Homo sapiens: one gene and its partners. The protein of the gene in region 2 interacts with the protein of the main gene of each other region in a pairwise test. Each region holds a gene or a part of one and is shown on either strand. Other genes may lie near its edges.

Region 1 (6,441 bases), on a different chromosome or scaffold from region 2:
CAGGTCAGGAAGGTGGATTGGGGCATGGAGCAAGGATAGGCCCCAGCCCTCCTGATTAGAAAGCTTCATGGCCTGGCTGGACAGGAGGGGGCTGTGTACAGTGGGAGGAGGCCAGGGCAGGTATGTCTGGTGGTGGGCGCAGCAGAGACAGGCTGGGTCACGGGGGACAGATGGGGACAGGGCCTGAGTGGGGCTCCCCACTGCCCTGCTCAGAGGGTACCGTCAAGGGTGGCAGCTCACCCCTGCTGGGCTGGCCTGGGTACTGAGCCCTGCCTTCTCAGGGGCTGGAGGCCTGCCACTCCTCGGCTGATTCCCGCAGATGCCACCCGGCTCAGCTGGGCCTGGTACCCAGAAGCCCTGCCGCGGCCTCCAGATGCAGGGAGGTGCCTACCTGCCAGTCTGTCTTGGGTGTGTCATTTGTCCATTTCTTTGGACATGTTCAGGCAGTCAGTGAGCCTAGACCCTGGTGCCTGCCAGGCGGTGGGCGCACTCAGGCCTTTTACCTGCCCAGCCCCCAGAAGCCTGAGGCAGCACGCCAGGGGCCTGGGGCCTTCCATGGGGACTGCAAGGCTGCAGACCCCTGCCTTTCTGGCTGCGACATGGGAGGCCTGGCTGGGTCACTTCCCCTCCTCTCAGGGTGGTCTTCAAGGTTTGCGGGAGGCTAGAGAGACATCAGTGCTACAGTGCAGCCTTGGGCCCCTCGGGAGGGAAGCCTCCCCCAGTTGGGGGCCAATGGGCCTTCCACCCATGGGGCCTCCTGCCAGAGGTCTTTTCTGGAAAGGGGTTCTGCCTTGGGCCAGCCCTGGGGAATGTGGCAGGTCAGGTGAAAGGTCAGCAAGCTGTCTCAGAGCTGAGCCTTGCAACTGACCTCTCCAGGCTTGAGAGAGGCCCAGAAGCCAGGGACCTGCTAACATTTTATTGTGGAAAGATGTGAAGTTTACAGAAAAGTTGCACAAATACTCCAATGAACTCCAGGAGTCCATCCACCTAGTCTTGCCAACTGCCAACATTTTGCTACATTGCTGAATCCTCTATCTGAATGCTGAAATCATTTGAGAGTAAGTTGCAGAAGTCATGTTCCTTTGCCCCTAAATTCTTCCTAAGAACAAGGACATTCTCTTAACACACCAGAGTCAGCTATCAAAACCAGGAAGTGAGCACTGAGGCAGTCCTAAGCCACACCCTGTTCAAACTTCACCAACGGACCTGAGTCTCCGATCACAGGCCTGTCCCTCCCCGTCCAGGAACATTGAGCTGTCTCCTTAGTCTCTGATCTGGAACCTTTCGGCCTTTCTTTGTTTTTCCTAACTTTGACATTTGGGAAGGCCCATTTACTTTAAGACTGACCCTGAGTCTGGGTTGGCTGATGTTTCTGCGTGGTTTGCCCTAGATGGACACAACTGGCCAGAAAACCCTGGAAGGACCTCTGTGTCTTCTCGAGCATCCGCCTCTCTGGGTGCTGGTGAACCTATGAGGAGGGCAAGTGTCTGGCTTGACTCTTGCCCCAGCGCTCAGGGATGGAACCCGCAGGGACAAAAGGTGCCCTAGGGTCGCCGGCTGGCCGGCAGGGTCTGTTCACAGAACGGCAGCCTCCCTGCACTGTTTCTGGGCAGCACAACCGCTCCTGCAACTGTCCAAGGCCTTCAGCCCACCTGTGCTCACCACCACGGCACCTTATCCCCAAGCCTTGGCTTTCTTGTCTCTGAAATGGGGATAAAAGCAGTTCCCACACCACAGAGTAGCTGGAGTCAAAGAGATGAGGTGTTGGGACATCCCCAAGCTCATCCAGGGAACCGGCTTGAGGGTCGAGTGTCCCTGGATCACAGTCTCTATCCCAGTTGAGATTAGAGCATGGGGCCGGCCGCAGTGGCTCACACCTGTAATCGCAGCACTTTGGGAGGCCGACACGGGTGTATCACCTGAGGTCAGGAGTTCAAAATCAGCCTGGCCAACATGGCAAACCCCGTCTCAACTAAAAATACAAAAATTAGCTGGGTGTAGTGGCAGGTGCCTGTAGTCCCAGCTACTCCGCAGGCTGAGGCAGGAGAATCGCTTGCTTGAACCCGGGAGGCGGAGGCTGCAGTGAGCCGAGATTGTACCACTTCACTCCAGCCTGGGCACAGAGCAAGACTCTGTTTCAAAAAGAGAGAGAGAGAGATTAGGACATGGGCAGGCCTGCCCTGCTAACACTGTGATGTCAGATGGTCTGGCTGGGCTGGAGAGGCCAAGAGCCGACCTACCATCCCCATGTTGAGCTTTCCAGCGTTTCTGGGGCATCCTGTCTGGTTGCCGGGGATGGATGGCCCAGGGTTGGAGTGGTGGTCAGGGGAGGACAACTGGGGTGGGCTGGCTGGTGAGGATACAGGGCGGGGGTTATCATGCAGGCGTCTCAGCCTGTGCTTTCTGTGGGACTGAGAATGTCTCCTTTCTGCTCTCTGGTCCCTGGGTACCCCAAATCCTGCCAACTCCCAACCCTATAAGCAGAGAAGGGCTTTGTGGGGGGCACCTCCCTTACACTGAACAGACACTCCTCCTGCCCACCCACCGGCCCTGCCCAATGGGAGGCAGCAACGCACTGGCTTCAGCTTCTTAGCCTGGGAAATGTGAGGGCTAGTGCAGCGCTGAGCCCAGACCCCTCACACAGCGCTACCGGCAACTTGCTTAACCTAGAGGTGGGGGGTGACGTCCCTGTCGGCCCCGTCACCTGGGGCCCCAGCACCTCTCCTTGGCTTTGCAGACGATGTTCCACAGGAGCCCGTGCCCACGCTGTGGAACGAGCCGGCCGAGCTGCCGTCGGGAGAAGGCCCCGTGGAGAGCACCAGCCCCGGCCGGGAGCCCGTGGACACCGGTCCCCCAGCCCCCACCGTCGCGCCAGGACCCGAGGACAGCACCGCGCAGGAGCGGCTGGACCAGGGCGGCGGTACGGGCGGGGCGGGGGAGGGAGGGGAGAGGGAGAAATTAGGAGGGGCGGGGGGCGGGGGGCGCGGGGAGAAGGGCCGGCCAGGCGGGGGCTAGCAGGTGACATGGTCCTCCGTCCTCCGCAGGGTCGCTGGGGCCCGGCGCTATCGCGGCCATCGTGATCGCCGCCCTGCTGGCCACCTGCGTGGTGCTGGCGCTCGTGGTCGTCGCGCTGAGAAAGTTTTCTGCCTCCTGAAGCGAATAAAGGGGCCGCGCCCGGCCGCGGCGCGACTCGGCTGCACTCCTCACGCGCCTGTATGTCCGCGCGTGCGTGTCCGCGCATGCAGGTGTGCCAGAGCGTGAGCGCGCGCAGGCGAGCGCTCAGGGCGGGGGTGCGCGCGGGGCCGAGGGTGGGTGCCGTGCACGCGCGCGGGTCCGGAGGCGCGCCCGAATTCCCCGCAGGGGCGCCGGGGCGTGCGTGAGCGCACAGCATGTCCGAGCCCGCCTGCGTGTGGCGTGCACCTGAGCGCGCGCAGGGCCGCGCGGCTCGGCGTCCCCGTGCACCACGGCTGGAGTGCCTCAGGAGCGCGCCGCATGTGCGTGCCCGGTGCGCGTGCGCCGGGGCCGCCAGGGCATCGGAGCGGGTGTGCGGCCAGCGGTCTTAGCCCGTCCGGGGGCACCGTCACGGTCAGGGCCACGCCACGGGCGGCCCCTTCTCCCGGCGCCGCCTCCTCTGCCTGGGCGCGGGCCGAGGCCCTCGCCGCGCTCCCCGGGGCCTGCCTCCCATCCCGCTCCGCTGGGGTTCAGAGCGTTCCGTGAGGAGGTAAGCGCTAGGGCAGGAGAGGCCGACAGAGACCCCGGGGCCCGCCGCTCCTTGAGGCCGGGGTTGGGGAGGGCAGGGGCCGTCGGCTCTCCCAGCCAGAGGCCGCGTGGTTTTGGGGGACGTCTTGACTCTGAGTCCTGCAGCCAGGGCCCCATCCGCGGGCTCAGACCAGCAGCCCCAAGCCCCCCTCTGCCCAGGGAGCCTCAGGAGCAGGATGAGTCGAGAGTCGACGCCGGACACGGCCCGCCCCTGCTTCCTACTCTCACCCCCAGGCCTGGCTGGGGGCCGGCAGCCCCCACGCCCACGGTTGGTTTGTTCAGGGAGAGAAAACGGCTTTCCCAGCTCTACTCACCTCACTTCACCCTCAGAGAGTCGGGGCGGAGTGAGGGTGAGGAGCCTGGTCCAGGGTCCCCACCTCGGAAGCATTTAGAGATGTAAACTTTGATCCTTTGATCATTTAACCTGCTCAGCACAGCAGGAAGTGGGAACTTGGTCCCTACCCCAGTCCCCAGGGCCTTTGGAGGGAAGGGTTGGACAGTTTGGAGGCCAGCAGACCCCTTGGGGACAGCTTAATGTATCTGAAGATTCCTGAGTGGGAATGTTGCTGGAGGGCAAGCTGCTTCTCTTTTTTAAAAATTCATTTTCTCTAGCAGCTGTTTTGGCCCCTTTGGTGTCCCTGAGCTCCCCATGGCACTGTTTCCTGCCGTGACTTTCTCCTCCTGGACACTGGAGCCCAGGTGGTGCCCGCGCACCTCTCACACACTGGGGGATAGGGTCAAGGCCTCATCCAAGTCTGTTAACAGCTTCCCACTCAACCAGTCTCCCCAAAATACACTGTGAGTTCAATGATTCTGCTTATAAAGGAGTGCTATGAAACTGACCTATTTTCCTAATTGGTTAACTGACTTCATCTCACATAACCTTGAGTAACCAAAGCCTTCATCAGAGCGGACGATCCAACCCAACATGCTGTTTCCCATCCTCAAAAGGCACGGGGACCAATGGCCACCCAACTCCTTCCCAACCCTCCCCTCCAGGGACGAGAGATGGCCCCCTCTTTCCCTTTCCCCACTCTGCAAGCACTCCCCCACCAACGGGTGCATCACAGCCCCTCACTGGGACCAGGGGGCCTCCCTCTCCGGTGGAACCAGTGTCACATGCCTGTGCATCTCTGTGATTCTCAGAGGGTCTGAGGTCCGAGCACCCTGCTGTGGCCTGTGGGAAGACGCTACAAAGTCCCACTGGATCTAAACCAGAGGCCTGTTCTGGCGAGCAGGGAAACTGTGTCCTGGCAGAGATCGTGGTCCTGGGCACACAGGACCCCTCAGCACACTGAGGTGGAGCTGGGGCGAGGGGAGGGGGTGCGCTCTGGGTAACTGAAGGTGTGAAGGGCCCAGGGCCTGTTTCTGGGCAGTGCAGGAAGTCCCAGCCCCATGCCTGTGGTGAGATCCCCTGTAGGGCCCCCCCCACCATGGACACTTCGGGGCCTCTACGGTCTTCCAAAGCTGTGTCCTCATTTCCACTGCAGCAGAGGGGCGTCCCCAGCTCCGTCAAACAGCCCTTTCTGTTTCTGGAGTCCTACAAGTGGAGGCCCAAATCCGTTCCCATGTTGAGGCAAGGCCCTGGCTGTTCCTTCCTCTCTGGAAACCGCCTTGAACTCTTCCTTTGGGACATGCCTCCTCGACCAGCCTTGAAGGGGTGCTCCTCTCTCACTACCTGGAACCAAACACCCCCTTCCTTTGTGTACAAGGGCAATAAAGAGTAGACCTTCATCTTCTTTATTTTATATATGATGCTTCTTTTAATGCAGCCAAAAGTGATATTTGCTTTTCTCAGAACCATAATCGATACAAGATGCAGTGACCAATTCATTCCTTAAAACACCTGGGCTCCTTAAGGGGCTAGAAGACACAAGTTACATCCAGCCCATCAGGGAGCCAGAGGCGGGAGGGGTCCCCAGCCAAGCTCTGGCAGGCCTGCCATGGGGCAGGGCCTGACCGTGCAGCCAGAGGCTGGCAGAGGCCTGGGGAAGGGTGGGCAGAGGCAGCTGGGCTCTCAGTCCTGGAACCGGAGACCAAGGGCTGCTCATCAAGCTCCGTCAGGCAAGGGCGGCCTCATCTGTGCCTGGTAGATTCTAACTGCTTCCAAGGTAGAGGAGGACGCGTGCAGGAAATCGTGTCAATTGTCACCTTCTGCCTGCCTCCCACAGGGACACTCTGGGTTGGGAGCCTCTTCCAGTCCCTGGGGGCCAGGGGCATGGGGGGCCCTGGAGTGTGCCCACCCCCTTCCACCCCCTCGGAGGCATGAGGGAGGTGGTGTAATACTGCTGAAACCTTCTTGTTTACAAATGCATCAGGAGAGGCTTGGGCACCCTTTATCCAGTTTGCGAGCAAGGGGCCAAGACACATGAGCACTCACTGCGTGGGCAGGGATGAGGGCCGGGCACCCCAAGCCAGATCCTGCCACCTGGGGAGGTGCTGGCCTGTGCTTCCCAGAGCCCCCCCCCCCCCACCTTCTGTCGGGGTCTCATGCAGGCCCTGCTCCCGCTGGCCCCCTGGGTGGGGGTCATTGCCGATTCCGGCTGCCCAGCTTCCTGCGGTCCTTGTTCTGGCTGCGCTGAGGGTCATCCATCTTGTGGACACGGAAACATTCCTTGAGGTTCTGGGACCGGATCTTGGGATTCAAGATCTCCTCAGTCATGGAGCTGGGGAACCAGCCTC
Region 2 (7,504 bases):
CAAATAAGTCTGCTTAGTTTGCAAACTGCACTAGATATCTTTAAATAAACTACACCAAAAAGTGATACTTCTTGGCTACGTAACAATGAATACAGAAATGAGTCTCTGCGTAAAATATTCACTCTATTGCATCCCATATTAGAGAGGAGAAGAGAGCACGAGGAAGATTTCAAATGAAATCTGTTGCAAATCTCAGGTTCTTTATCCTCCTAGATTACAGTTCTCATAATAGCTCATTTTTTAAAGACTTGAAAATTTACATCTGTAAGTGAGAGTGGTATTTTTAAACCTTTATCCTAAAAATAGTAATATGTTGCCCCACCCAAGGGTTTTTCTATGCATACTCCCAGAAGTCAGTCAGTCAAACACTTATCCCTGTTCCCTTCCCTACGGCAAGCAAGAAGTCAGCCCTCCAACTGAAGAGATTCTTTGGCAATAGTTATCAGAAGAAAATTTTTCATAGCCAATACATCTGAGTAGTCTCTCATTTTCTCTCAGTCACCTTCTAGGTTTTATTTCCTCCTTAGTCATTTGTTTACATGGCTGCTGTCTGCCTTCTCACCCTCACTAAAATGCCAGCCCCACAAAGGCAGGGCTTTTCACCCCTGTCCCCAGTACCAACATATAGTAGATGCTCAATACATATTTAATGAATAAATAAAACCAACATGACAACCAAGACAGGTGATTTTTCATCAGTCCATAAGTCTTCTAATAGGGAAATGAAGATACGTACATAAAATTGTTAAGTACATTAAACCAATTTTGTCTCCAGTCTTGATGAATACTGATATTTATATATTGTCCACTCCCCATGCCAGGAAACTATTTTTCTCAAGGGAAGCCACTAGATATTATTACTACATATACTATAGGTAACATAAAACATGTTATGTTTTATATGTAATTTCTAGTATGAACCACAGTATATAAGAAGAGTTCAATAAATACGTAATAGAATAAGGTAATCTGTTGTTTCTTTTGCTTAATGTTAATTTTACTCATGTAAGTGAATGGAAAATAAAATATAACATCTTGTTACTAGTGTTTTATTTTTCTGCAAATATAAAAAAACTGAGTTTATGCCAATACAAATTGTTCTATGCCTAATTTCCTAAATATTCCACACTTCACAAAACATTTACTTTTCCTCACTTTCTTAACACATAACTTGGACTCTAAGAGTTTCTACTCTTGAGCAAAAACAAACAAACAAAAATCTAAAATAATGTCTTTAAAATAAACATGAGACTTCTTTGCTTTAACAAGTACTGCATTCTAGTAATTCAATGCATATTCACTCATGCTGCAAAATAAAAAACATTTTTGAGATACAAAAACAAATTTTAAATTAAGTACTTTTTAAAAAAGCATAGTTTTACTGACTCATAACAATCTAGTATAATTTCACTATCATATTAAAGTACATTTTGCCAGGTGTGGTGGCTCACACCTGTAATCTCAGCACTTTGGGAGGCTGAGGCAAGAGGATCCCTTGCGGCTGGGAGTTCAAGACCAGACTGGGCAACATAGCAAGACCCTGTCTCTACAAAAAGTAAAAAAATATCTAGGCATGGTGGGGTACACCCGTAGTCCCAGCTACTTGGGAGGCTGAGGCAGAAGGATCAATTGAGCCCAGGAGTTTGAGGCTGCAGTGAGCTATGATCATACCACTGCACTTCAGTCTGGGGGACAGAGCAAGAAACTGTCTCTAAATGAATGTTAAAGAAACTGTCTCTTAAAAAAAAGTACATTCTATATTTTCACAGACTGGGGCCTATAAAAATCAAACCACTTTTACTGATTAAGAGTATTTTTAATGTACTTACCCTGACTTCATGAACATTATTAGAATAATCCACACTCTGGCAAATATAGCTATATCCCGCATTATATGATCCCATGAATAACTGGAAAAAGAGTAATAATATTTGTAGTAAAGTTTTAGTAAACACAGCATTAAAAACACAATTATATACAAAATGTAGCCTTTCAAATTATTTTAAACACAATATTTTCTTTAAAAATTTCAAATGCATTAAAAATTTCATGCATTCCGATTGCTAGAAGTTACTGTGCATTAATTTGTTCTATAATTAAAATCTAAATTAAAAATCACATGTAAATTTTATACTGAACATTGACTCTATCTATTAAATACTTCACAGTATTAAGAGAAATTTTTATTGCTAGGACTCAGATTTCAAAGTTGTCCTACCTTAACTGGTTTCTATGTTTGATCCAGAGTGGTTTGCATCTAACAAATTAGGTACAGGTATCCAAATAAATTAAAGTGTTCATGAAGTTGAGACTCGAGGCTAAGTTTTCAAGTAAAGAAATATTTCTTTTTCTAAGAAGAGTTATTGTTTATTTTCCTAGCATTACTAGTCAGTTCTCTGGCTTCATACAGAATTTTAATGAGTCTCTTAGGAAACAAATTCTTTATACATATGCAATTTAAAAAATGGCTGTGTCAATCTAGCCTTTAGGATTTCCTTTGAAAATGTTGTGGAGAATTTGCTAGTGCCCAGAAAAGTATATAATGATTAGTAACAACAGCTATATGGCAGTTAATTCATTTTAATTCCAGCCCAAAATACAACATTATGTAATAGGATTTACTTGAAATTGGCATATTTTGATCAGTTACCAAACCAGAAACTACTGAATAAGAATTATAAATAAATAGCTGCTACTGTTTACTGAGTGCTTAATACGTGCCAAACACTATGCAAAAATTATCTTACTTTACTCCGATAATAACCTGAGATGGTAGGTATTTAAGTGGGGAAAACGAGGCTAAGAAAAGTTAAATAACTTTCAATGCCAGAACAGCTAATAAGGGTTACTTTAGAATCCAGTTGGTCTTATTCAAAATTCCACTTTAAACAACTTTCCTATACCTCATGTTTAATATTTTTGTTATTCAAAAGTGAAAAATGTCAAAAATGTACTTTTAGAGTAGCTAACAGTTATGTCTGGGTAAAATATTACAATGATGGTTTTACACATTCTCATTTTTAAATTTCCAATAACCTTGGAAAATTATTAAAGTGATCTTAAAAACATACCTCTCTGAAGATAAAGAGGTTAAGCAAAACCATCCCAAAATTATAGATAATGAGCACTAGACGCATCTGAAAAGGTTCTCGGTCCTTCATCCATTTTGGACCCAGCCACACAAACAGGAGATAAAGAGTGCTTATACTTAGTGTAGGCCAAGGAGACTGCATCAGAGGCCAATTTTCCACACGCTTATCTATAGAGAGAACAAAATACCATAAAATTCATTAATCAGTAAATGTTTTATAAAATACACTTTTTAGGAATCAAGATGTTTCAACTTAATTTCCTAATTTGACTAAATACGGATCACTGTCCTTTGAGTCCCAACAAAAAATACATGGTATAAAAACCAAAGAAACAATACTGACTCCTGCAAGTGGCTTTTGAAAATTATGCTTCATTACTTATGTCACACATTATGTTTTACAGAGACCCTACAGAACAAAAACAAGAAATAAAGCGCACTAAAAACAGAGGTGGTTATCTTGGGATGAAAAGTTAATGAAAAACTTCATACACAGAAAATAAATATGTTAAGGAAACATTTGTCTTCCATATTATACACGTGAAATTTATCAGGGCAGCTTGGAGGCTGCTCTGTGTGTCCACTCCTAAAGCAGGCAAGAATGTAACTGGAGAGGTACGTACGGGGCGATGGTAGCCATTTGCTGAAATATCTCGAGACACTGAAGACAAGAGTACAGGGGCACTGAGAGATTAAGTTAGGGTTAATTACAATTCTATAATGTAAACAGTCACCATATTCAAGACATTTTTCTAACTTTTTCATTGAGAACATGCACCTATTTTATTCCCATGAATAACTAACTTGAATGTTTTTCTCTAGAGCTGTAAATCGCATAACTTACATATGTGTAACTATATATATAAAATGCAACACATTATTTTACTTAAAATGAATTGATTGTCCAGCATATTCAAATACACAACCATAAATCAATTTTATAATGGAATGTTGCCACAAGTAAAACATTTCTGAAACAAGCATGATAATGAAATATGGATGGGATTAACAAAAATTCATCTTTTAACACATTATAAAAATATATTAATATTAATTTTTATATTTCTAAAAGCTAAACAACAGTTGAAGGTTGCAAATCTAATTTCTAGTTTATTCTTGGCAATGCAAAACATTTTATGTCGTATTTTGAAGAAATAATGTATTTTTAAAGTAGTAAAAGAAAATTCAACTTCTTAGAACCAACCTAAATGAATTTAACTTAATTGTTGATCATAATAACTCCCTATTTAAACTGTCATTTTTACTAAAGCCTGTATATGCAAAATGCTTCTGGATTAGTGAACTAGGTATTAAAATACCTTACTTAAAAAATTAATCTGTGTCTATATACTGTCAATAGACAGTAAGATACAAGATACGAAACACAATATTTAATCAAACAATTTGCAAAGTCAGGAAATGACACAACTATGGTTTTAATGAAATCAGAGTTGTTAAGAAGGTGAGCTATTGCTTGATGACTCGAGATATGGGAAAAAAAGGTGATAATGACTTGAAAGAAAAACACATATGGGAACCAGGAAAACAGAAAAACTGATTTTATTTCATAGTTTTAAAAGGAGGTCTACTATTCATAGAGATTATGGCTATATCACTCAAATCAAACACATTTCAGAGTTAAAAATAAACCAATATATTTGAACCACAGGAGAGATGGTAAACTTCTCACAAGGAGGAAATGACTTAAAAGATAGCACGGCTGACTTTTGTTAAAAAGGCGTTGTGCCACGAAGGTCTTATCAGTGACTGTTCACTTTTCTTAATGGCATTTTATCATTTTATGTTCATTATCATTCTATGACCATATCTTTCTATGCTAAAGGCCCCCTATAAAACATGAGGTGTGCATCTACTTAGGTATTTCTTTTTCTATATTATAGAAAAAAAAAGATTTAGACAAACCCCCTATATTAGAGAAGAAACATTTAGACAAACTCTCTGTTCTAGGTCACAGAGAAGGAGTTGCTGTGGTATCCTGTTCTTTTCCACCAACTTTAAGGCAGGCGCTGTTTTTCCCATGAGACTTATACAAAGAGCAAAAGTACTCTGATTAATGCCATACTCCATGTAACAAAGAAAGGAAGATAAATGTATCTGTGAGGAGATTTTAATTCCTAACATCATAGATTATCTCTCACCCTTACCACACACAGAATTCCTACTGACTTCAAAGAAAGTTCTGAGTAGCGGGTAGAAAAAAAAAATTAAAGAAATAGGTCCAAACCTCTGCCAGAAATTAAGAGTAAGTAAAAGTGCTCATTCTTTTTGATGTACAGTGTGGTATGCTGTATCGTTTTCATTCAACAGAGAAATTTAAAGAGAGGACTACCACAGGAGAGAGGGAAAGAGACACTAGTGAGAAGCTGAAGATCTTACAATATGAAACACTAATAGAGGCCAATAGAAGAGTAAAAAAGTAAAGAGAAACAGGAAATAACAGAGGCATCAGAGAAAGCACACAAGACCCTACCAGTAAGTAGACTGGTGACTGGGTTTTTTTTTTTTTTTTTTTTTTTTTTTTAAGAAATGGAGTCTCATTCTATTGTCCAGACTAGAGGGCAGTGGTGCACACATGGCTCACTGCAGCCTCCACCTCCAGGGCTCAAGTGATCCACCTGCCTCAGCCTCCTGAGTTGCTGATGCCACAAATTATAAGTAAATAAAAATGTTCATTCTTTTTTATATATAGTGTGGTGCACTGTTGTTCTCTCATTCAACAGAGAATTTCCAAAAGAGAGAAGGAAAGAGGCACTAGTAAGAAGCCACCATGACCAGCTGACTGGCTGAGTTCTAACACTGGCTCTGCTACTGTGCATAGGACCTTAGGAGCACAATCTATCTTCATTTCCTCCATCTGTAAAACTGGATGGGAAGTAGGTGAACCAGATTAGTGCTTCTCCAGTTTCAATGAGAAAACGAATCACCAGGTTGGGGAGGGGGGCGGGTGGGCATGGTAAAAATGCAGATTTTGAGACAGTGGGTCAGATATGCAGCCCATTTCTTTTCTTTTCTTTTTTCTTTTTTGAGACAGAGTCTCGTTGTGTCACCTAGGCTGGAGTAAAGTAGCACGATCTCCGTCCACTGCAGGCTCAGCCTCCTGAGCTCAAGCCATCCTCCCACCTCAGACTCCCAAGTAGCTGGTCCTACAGGCACACGCCAACACACCCTATTACTTTTTGTATTTTTTGTAGAGACAGGATTTTGTCATGCTGCCTAGGCTGGTCTCAAACTCCTAAACTCAAGCAATCCATCCACCTTGGCCTCCCAAAGTGTTAGGATTACAGGCGTGAGCCACCATGCCCAGCCCATGCAGCCCATTTCTAAGAAGACCACATTTTCCAGGAAGCTCTAACTGATGCTATGCCATTATTCCATGGACCATCCCCTTTTGAGCAGTAACAAACTACATGATCATTTAGGTTTATTTTAACTTCTGAAAATTGTTACTTTTAAAAATAATTATTAGGAGGAAGAATAGACTAATGGTGAGGAAAACTGGATCAAGAAAATTTTAACTGGTCAGGGGACGCATTTTGCATGACCAGAGCACCTGCACATGTTACTATTCCATTACAGCACTCATTACACTGTCCAGTGACCTTCTTTTAAACTGTTTTCTCCCTGAAAAGAGGGGCTGGGTGTTTCATTCTTGTATTGCAAGGCCTATCAAAGTACCTAAAAATATATTTGATGAATAAATAAAGAGTAGATAATTTTTTCACACTATTCCTCTATTCTCTATCCTTTCTGCCAAATCCAAAAGCACATTTGTTGATATTCAAGGTTTCCTCAGTGTCCAAGAACCCTTCCTAGAGCTTTTCCCAGATCCTCCTCTATGCTGGCATAATAACTTTATCCTCAAGTCAACAACTCATCAACCTAGTATTTAGTGAATATATGTGCTCTACAAAGCTCAATGACCTTTTACTTCATTCCTTACTCCAGGGGAAAAAAGCAATGCCCTCACTTCTTTGCCCAACAATGCAAGGCATGCATTCATTCAACAACCACTTAACAAATCCCTGTTTTCAGCCTATAAAAGGCCACATTTTACACCATACCCTTCTCAAATTAGCCCTTCTAGTTCAGCAGGGTCAGAGAGCTTTCAAAAATTCAGCCTCCCAGGATTATCATGGAAGCTACAGTAACTGTCAACCCCTAATCCACAGCATAACAATTCCCAACCTTTTAATAATATTTGGATGAAATTCCTCCATGTCTTTACATGTTATAATACTATACTAGTTATGTTTGTTTTTCTGCATGTATTTGCATTAATATTTCCTTTAGTGCTTCTGATGAGATGCAAATATTCTATATTTCTTTCATATGTTTCCTTTTCCACTAAAAAGGGCTGTGTCACAATAGTGCCATACAACGATATGAAAATTC
Region 3 (7,504 bases), on a different chromosome or scaffold from region 2:
GGTTTTCAGCTCCATCAGGTCATTTAAGCTCTTCTCTACACTGGTTATTCTAGTTAGCCATTTGTCCAACCTTTTCTCAAGGTTTTAAGTTTCCTTGCGATCGGTCAGAACGTGCTGCTTTAGCTTGGAGAAGTTTGTTATTACCAACCTTCTGAAGCCTACTTCTGTCAACTCGTTAAACTCATTGTCCATCCAGTTTTGTTCCTTTGCTGGTGAGGAGTTACGTTCCTTTGGAGGAGAAGAGGCGTTCTGTTTTTGGAATTTTCAGCCTTTCTGCTGTGGTTTCTCCCCATCTTTGTGGTTTTATCTACCTTTGGTCTTTGATTTTGGTGACGTACAGATGGGTTTTGGTGTGGGTGTCCTTTTTGTTGATATTGATCCTATTCCTTTGTTTGTTAGTTTTCCTTCTAACAGAGGCCCGTCAGCTGCAGGTCTGTTGGAGTTGCTGGAGGTCCACTCTAGACCCTGTTTACCTGGGTATCACCAGTGGAGGCTGCAGAACAGCAAATATCGCGGCCTGATCCTTCCTCTGGAAGCTTCGTCCAAGAAGGACACCCACCTATATGAGGTGTCTGTCGGCCCCTACTGGGAGGTGTCTCCTCCCAGTCAGGCTACATGGGGCTCAGGGACCCACTTGAGGAGGCAGTCTGTCCGTTACTGGAGTTCAAATGCCGAGCTGGGAGAACCACTGCTCTCTTCAGAGCTGTCAGGCAGGGATGTTTAAATCTGCAGAAGCCGTCTGCTGCCTTTTGTTTAGATATGCCCTGCCCCCAGAGATGCAATCTAGAGAGGCAGTAGGCCTTGCTGAGCTGCGGTGGGCTCCACCCAGTTCAAGCTTCCTTGCTGCTTTGTTTACACTGTGAGCATAGAAGTGCGTACTGAAGCCTCAGCAATGGCGGGGAGGCGCTTCCCCTCACCAAGCTCCAGCATCCCAGCTTGATCTCAGACTGCTTGGCTAGCAGCAAGCAAGGTTCCATGGGCATGGGACCCCCCGAGCCAGGCACTGGAGGCAATCACCTGCTCTGCCAGTTGCGAAGACTGGGAAAAGCACAGTATTTGGGCAGAGTATACTGTTCCTCCAGGTACAGTCACTCACGCCTTTCCTTGGCTAGGAAAGGGAAATCCCCTGACCCCTTGCACTTCCTGGATGAGGTGACGTCCTGCCCTGCTTTGGCTCACCCTCCATGGGCTGCACCCACTGTCCAACCAGTGCCAGTGAGATGAACCAGGTACCTCAGTTGGAAATGCAGAAATCACCCATCTTCTGCATCGATCTTGCTGGGAGCTGTAGACCAGAGCTGTTCCTACTGGGACATCTTGGAAGCAACTCTGGGTCTGAGTTTCTGTTTGTTGCCCTGATGTATATCCCCAGTGCCTAGAATGATACTTGTTACATAGGAAGTGCTTGATCCATGTTTGCACAAATGAATCTTTCTCATAATGAGGTTTCTCTAAACAAGCTGTTCTCCCAAAAACTTAAACCCAGCTTTATGTTGAAGCATCTCATTATACATTGGAAAGATGAAATGTGTAGTGAGACTTTGAATCTTCTTTTGAATCTAGAAACATTAGCATTTTTAGACCATTCTATTTTAATATTTATGAAATTTATGAAATAATAAGAAACATGAGGCCGGGCTCAGTGGCTTATGCCTGTAATCCCAGCAGTTTGGGAGGCCAGGGCTAGTGGATCATGAGGTCAGGAATTTGAGACCAGCTTGGCCAACATGGTGAAACCCCACTTCTACTAAAAATATAAAAATTAGCTGGGCGTGGTGGTGCATGCCTGTAATGCCAGCTCCTGGAGAGGCTGAGGCAGGAGAATCATTTGAACCTGGGAGGCGGAGTTTGCAGTGAGCTGAGATCGTGCCATTGCACTCCAGCCTGGGCAACATTGCGAGACTCCATCTCAAAAACAAAAACAAAAACAAAAAAAATGTGTGACCTAAATTAGGCTTATAGATGAACCATTGCAGTCATGATTAATTCCGCCATTGTTTGCCTTGTGATCTTTGGTGCCATGTCTGTACATATTTCATGATTTCTGTGTTTTTACGGTTTCCATTTCAGATCTCCCTTGAGTTTAGAAATCTGGCTGAGAAATACCAAACAGTGATTGCCGACATTTGCCGGAGAATGGGCATTGGGATGGCAGAGTTTTTGGATAAGCATGTGACCTCTGAACAGGAGTGGGACAAGGTTAGTCTCATAAAACAGTGTCTGTGTGTGATGTATTAGACAGAGCTGGCAGTCCTCATAGTGAAGCTCAGAACAAGAAAAGTTGTCCAGTATTTTCAGCCCCTCTGGTTTTACAATTCATCTGTTTAGGTTGAATGTCTCATCATAAACAGTTTATTCCAGAGTTAATTCCAAACCAGCAGCTATGTAGGATATCAGCCAGGCTAGGAGTAGGGTACTGGAGAGAAGTGCTTATCTAGACAAAGGGATGTAATTGACCATGAAGATTAAAACTACACATCAAAACATAAGGTAGGGTTAGGAGTCTTGCCTATTTTTCATAGGAATGGTGTTTGTGAGACTTACTCATCACTTCTGTGGAAGTAAAGACATTTTATTTATTTATTTTAAAGCCAGTCAGATTTAGCAGGCAGAGACATTTCAGACATCTAAAGTGTTGATGTATTTCATACCTTTAACTGTGCTTAAATTAGGATCTCCGAAAAGATGCTGCTACATGGTCACTACGTTAGTGTAGGTCCAAGGTCTTGGGCCTCTTAATTTTTCAAACCTCAAAACTTGACAGCAGTTATCTTTGGAACTGCTGATTTGTGCTTCCTAAGTTAACAGCATACAATGACTGCTAGAAATCAATTTCTGCATTTAAGGTGAAGTTAGCCGGGTACTATGGTTTACCTGTAATCTCAGCACTTTGGGAGGCTGAGGTGGGAGGATCATTTGAGCCCAGGAGTTAGACACAAGCCTAAGCAACATAGCGAGACCCCGTCTTTCAAAAAATTAAAAAATGAGCAGGGAATTGGTGGCATGTGCCTGTGGTCCCAGCTACTCTGGAGGCTGAGGTGTGGGAGGATTGCTTGAGCCCAAGAGTTGAAGGTTGCAGTGAGCCATGATTGTGCCACTGCACTCCAACGTGGGTGACAGAGCAAGACACCATCTGAAAGAAAATAAAGTTGAAGTTAAAACTTCTGGCCAAGAACCAGCACTGGTTATGATAGTAACTCATTTTCTGTTGTGCAGATTTATTCAGGAAACTTAATTTTAGGTTGTTGAATAGAAGTTTTGATCAGATAAAATTGAATTAAAAAAAATTTTTTTTGAGACAGGGTCTTGCTGTTATCCAGGCTGGTGTGTAGTGGTGTGATCACGGCTCCCCGCAGCCTCAACCTCCTGGGCTCAGGTGATCCTCCCACCTCAGCCTACCGAGTAGCTGTAACTACAGTGCATGACACCATACCAGGCTCATTTTTGTACATTTTTTGTAGAGAGAGGGTTTTGCCATGTTGCCCAGGCTAGTCTCAAACTCCTGGCATCAAACAGTCCTCCCACTCTGGCCTCTCAAATGTTGGGATTACAGGCATGACCAGCCAATTATTTCAAGGAGTTATTTTTTTTCTTCTACTTTGGGGGAAGATGAATTATATAAGTCTCCATTTTAGGAGTATTTCTACCAAAAGAACTATTATCTTCAAATATATTTTTGGATAGTACTATAGATATACTAATTTTTTTTTAAATTTCTAGTAATTCTTTTGAAGATTTTGTATAGCTGTCCAAAGCCAATTTCTGTCTACCTAATTTCAGCAAGATTTCACTCTTTTCATGTTACTTTTGTCCCAGAACAAATTTCAAGTGCTTTCTCTTCACCTGTGCATTCTTCCCCCTGATTAGTCTCTGGCTTTGTATTACTTTCAGTCAGAGACGACTTTTTTTTTTTGAGACAGGGTCTCACTCTGTCACCCAGACTGGAATGCAGTGGCACAGACAAGGCAGCCTTGACCTTCTGGGCTCAAGCAATCTTCCTTGCCCTCAGCCTCCTGAGTAACTGGGACCACAGGCACGTTGCCACCATGCCTGGCTAATTTATTTTAATTTTTATTATTTTTGAGACAGGGTATTGCTCTGTCACCCAGGCTGGAGTGTAGTGGCATGATCAAGGCTCACTGCAGCCTTCACCTCCTGTGCTCAAGCAGTCCTCTCACCTCAGCCTCCCCATTAGCTGGGACTATAGGTCCACACCACTACACCAGGCTAATTTTTGTAATTTTTTGGTAGAGACAGGGTTTCATCGTGTTGCCTAGGCTGGTCTTGAGCTCCTGGGCTCAAGCGATTCACCTGCCTTAGCCTCCCAGGTGTGAGCCACTACACTCAGCCTTTTAAAATTTTTTACAGAGATGAGGTCTTGCTTTGTTGGCCAGGCTGGTCTAAAACTCTTGGGCTCAAGCAGTCCCCTCTCCACAGCCTCCCAAAATTCCGGGATTACAGGCGTGAACTTCGGTCATTTCCTAACTTTTACCCTTCCTAATGACACTCCAGAGCTTACCTTCTTTACTTTTGCTTCTTAAGTTAACTAATAGACAATTATTGTATGTGGATATTGCATTAAGTTGTCTTAGGATACCCTTTTCAGAGGAGGACAGCTTTTGACAAATTGCTGTCGCGGAAAAAAAAAGTATTTGGCAATTAAGAGTTGCATTTACTGAAATCTCTGTTGAGAGAGGGGAAGTTACGTTGTCTCTAAAAGAAAAACTAAAAAGAAAAGGGGAAGTTTTAGCAAAGTTGTTAAAGCCTGACACTTAAGTCATACTACCTAGTTTTGAACTCTTAGCCCCTGCCACAGACACGGCAGCCCCTTGAACCTTCCTGGGTTCAAGCGAGCCTCCTACTTCAGCCCCCTGAGTAACTGGGACCACTGGCCTGTGTCACTGTGCCTGGCTAATTTTTTTTTTTTCTCACATGGGCAATGTTGGGCAAGTTAAATCGACTTCTTTGTGCCTCAGTTTCCTCATCTGAAATGGAGATCATACTGCTATGTACCTGATACAATGTTTGTGAGGATTGAATGTGCAGAGTTCTTTTTTTCTGTTGTTGTTGTTTTGAGACGGAGTCTCACTCTGTCGCCCAGGCTGGAGTGCAGTGGCGCGATCTCGGCTCCCTGCAAGCTCCACCTCCTGGGTTCACGCCATTCTCCTGCCTTAGCCTTCTGAGTAGCTGGGACTACAGGCACCCGCCACCAGGCCAGCTAATTTTTTTGTATTTTTAGTAGAGACGGGGTTTCACCGTCTTAGCCAGGATGGTCTTGATCTCCTGATCTCGTGATCCGCCCGTCTCAGCTTCCCAAAGTGCTGGGATTACAGGCATGAGCCATCGTGCCCGGCTGAATGTGCAGAGTTCTTAAAACCGTGTCAAGAACATAAAATAGTTATTTGTTCTTTCATATAATGATGATTTTGAGGGCCTGCGGATCTTGACATGTTATCAGATTGGTCAAAAAAAGATTAAACCATAGTTGGTATTGTCCTAGTTCCTGTTACCAGAATATTCCATCTTTCATCGTTGCCTTCTCTCATAGTTTTATGTATCAAAAAGTTTATTGTAAAGCTAGGGCGGGCACGGTGTCTTGGGCTGGTAATCCCAGCACTTTGGGAGGCCAAGGCTGGCAGATCAGTTGAGGTCAGGAGTTCGAGACCAGCGTGGCCAACATGGTGAAACCCCGTCTCTACTAAAAATAAAAAATTAGCTGGATGTGGTGGTGGGTGCTTTAATTCCAGCTACTCAGGAAGCTGAGGCAGGAGAATCACTTGAACCCAAGAGGCAGAGGTTGCAGTGAGTTGAGATTGTGCCAGTGCACTCCAGCCCAGGGGACAAAGTGAGACTTGATCTCAAAAAAAAAAAAAAAAAAAAAGTTATTGTAAAGCTAGACACGGTGGTATTTGCCTACAATCCCAGCTGTTCGGGAAGCTGAGGCAGAAAGATTGCTTGGGTCCAGTAGTTTGAGTCTAACGTGGGCAAATATATGAGACTCCATCTCAAAAAAAAAATAAAAAATAAAAATAAAAAAATGTTTACTAGTTTTTTTCAGTAGCCTTTTATTATAGTAGCAGTACATGTGTATTGTAGAAATTTGGAAAATACAAGTGAAAAATAAAAACATCAAATTCCCGTCAGCCAGAGACTGCTATGAAATGTTTTGAGCACATCCTTCTTGAATGTTTTTTAAATCCTGGTATGTATATTTGTATTTTAAAATCAAAATGCATTCTTACCCATTCTCTTTTGAACCTGCTTTTTTGTAGCTAATGATCTCTAGTGTGTCCATTTCAGTAAAAATTCCATTATTAAAGTGCTTTAAAAATCGTCTCTTACAGTACTGCCACTATGTTGCTGGGCTGGTCGGAATTGGCCTTTCCCGTCTTTTCTCAGCCTCAGAGTTTGAAGACCCCTTAGTTGGTGAAGATACAGAACGTGCCAACTCTATGGGCCTGTTTTTGCAGAAAACAAACATCATCCGTGACTATCTGGAAGACCAGCAAGGAGGAAGAGAGTTCTGGCCTCAAGAGGTAACAGATTCAGGGTATTTTGGGGGAAAATAACTTTAGACATTCTCTGAAAAATCCTTTAACTCTTGTGGTTGCGGGTGACAGAAAAACAAGTCAGGCCTCCCCCAGGCAGCATAAGGGGATGTGGAAAATAGGATAGCTTGACATGAGTTTGCTTCAGGTAGACTGGCTGACTCCCAGGATTCACACCACGTAATCAGTATATTCAAGCCTTGCTGTCCTTGATTTCTTTCAGACGGTCTTTCTCCAAGTGGTGGATATGGTAACAACCCATGTGCACTAGCTTAACAAAAAGTTCTTAGGAATGGCTTTGTTCGGCCTGGCGCAGTGGCTCATGCCTGTAATCCCAACAGTTTGAGAGGCCAAGGTGGGCGGATCACCTGAGGCCAGGAGTTCGAGACCAGCCTGGCCAACATCGTGAAACCCCGTGTTTACTAAAAAATACAAAAATTAGCCGGGCGTGGTGGCAAGGGCTTGTAATCCCAGCTACCTGGGAGGCTGAGGCAGGAGAATCGCTTGAACCCAGGAAGCAGAGATTGCGGTGAGCTCAGATTGTGCCACTGCACTCCAGCCTGGGCGACAGAGTGAGACTCCCTCTCAAAAGAAGAGGAAGGGCTTGGTTCTTCTGCTCAGCCCTGAATCAGTTACTGTTGCTACACAGCTGAGTTCTCTGGCCTCGCCTGGATTACGTCTACACAGTACACACAGAATGGATTTCCCCCAAAGAAAGAATTCTGCAGCAGGAAGGGGAAAGGGATGGCAGGTAGACAAAAACTCCAGGTGTCTGTAATAAGGGACAGGGTCGATCTTTAATTAAAACATGGACAGGGAACAGAAAGCTTTTGATACTGATTTTGTTCAGAAGGAAAGTAGAAAATTTTATGACTGTTCCCTGAATTTATTCCAGCATTTACCTTTTGCTTTCCATAAAAGTGTTTCCTGCAGCCAAGTACTTTAAAGTTTTAAAA

Evidence for each region. Proteins that work in one complex are often made in the same cells at the same time.
Region 1: the proteins of ELOVL4 (region 2) and SNORC interact in binary tests that used the Homo sapiens proteins (3 or more experiments, as listed by UniProt).
Region 3: the proteins of ELOVL4 (region 2) and FDFT1 interact in binary tests that used the Homo sapiens proteins (3 or more experiments, as listed by UniProt).

What each region holds. Positions count from the first base shown.
Region 1 is NC_000002.12:232,873,203-232,879,643, forward strand, and holds the end of SNORC (protein SNORC isoform c precursor), read left to right. Parts: intron 1-2,252; exon of another isoform or gene 2,253-2,295; coding exon of another isoform or gene 2,296-2,353; intron 2,354-2,391; exon of another isoform or gene 2,392-2,603; intron 2,604-2,629; exon of another isoform or gene 2,630-2,737; coding exon 2,738-2,920; intron 2,921-3,044; coding exon 3,045-3,154; 3' UTR 3,155-5,498; downstream 5,499-6,441. Other genes in the region: NGEF (ephexin-1), read right to left, coding at 6,287-6,441. UniProt on the Homo sapiens protein: Plays a role in the regulation of chondrocyte maturation and postnatal endochondral ossification. May inhibit cell growth stimulation induced by FGF2.
Region 2 is NC_000006.12:79,923,123-79,930,626, forward strand, and holds part of ELOVL4 (very long chain fatty acid elongase 4), read right to left. Parts: intron 3,260-7,504; coding exon 3,072-3,259; intron 1,911-3,071; coding exon 1,830-1,910; intron 1-1,829. UniProt on the Homo sapiens protein: Catalyzes the first and rate-limiting reaction of the four reactions that constitute the long-chain fatty acids elongation cycle.
Region 3 is NC_000008.11:11,819,680-11,827,183, forward strand, and holds part of FDFT1 (squalene synthase), read left to right. Parts: intron 1-2,070; coding exon 2,071-2,199; intron 2,200-6,344; coding exon 6,345-6,536; intron 6,537-7,504. UniProt on the Homo sapiens protein: Catalyzes the condensation of 2 farnesyl pyrophosphate (FPP) moieties to form squalene. Proceeds in two distinct steps.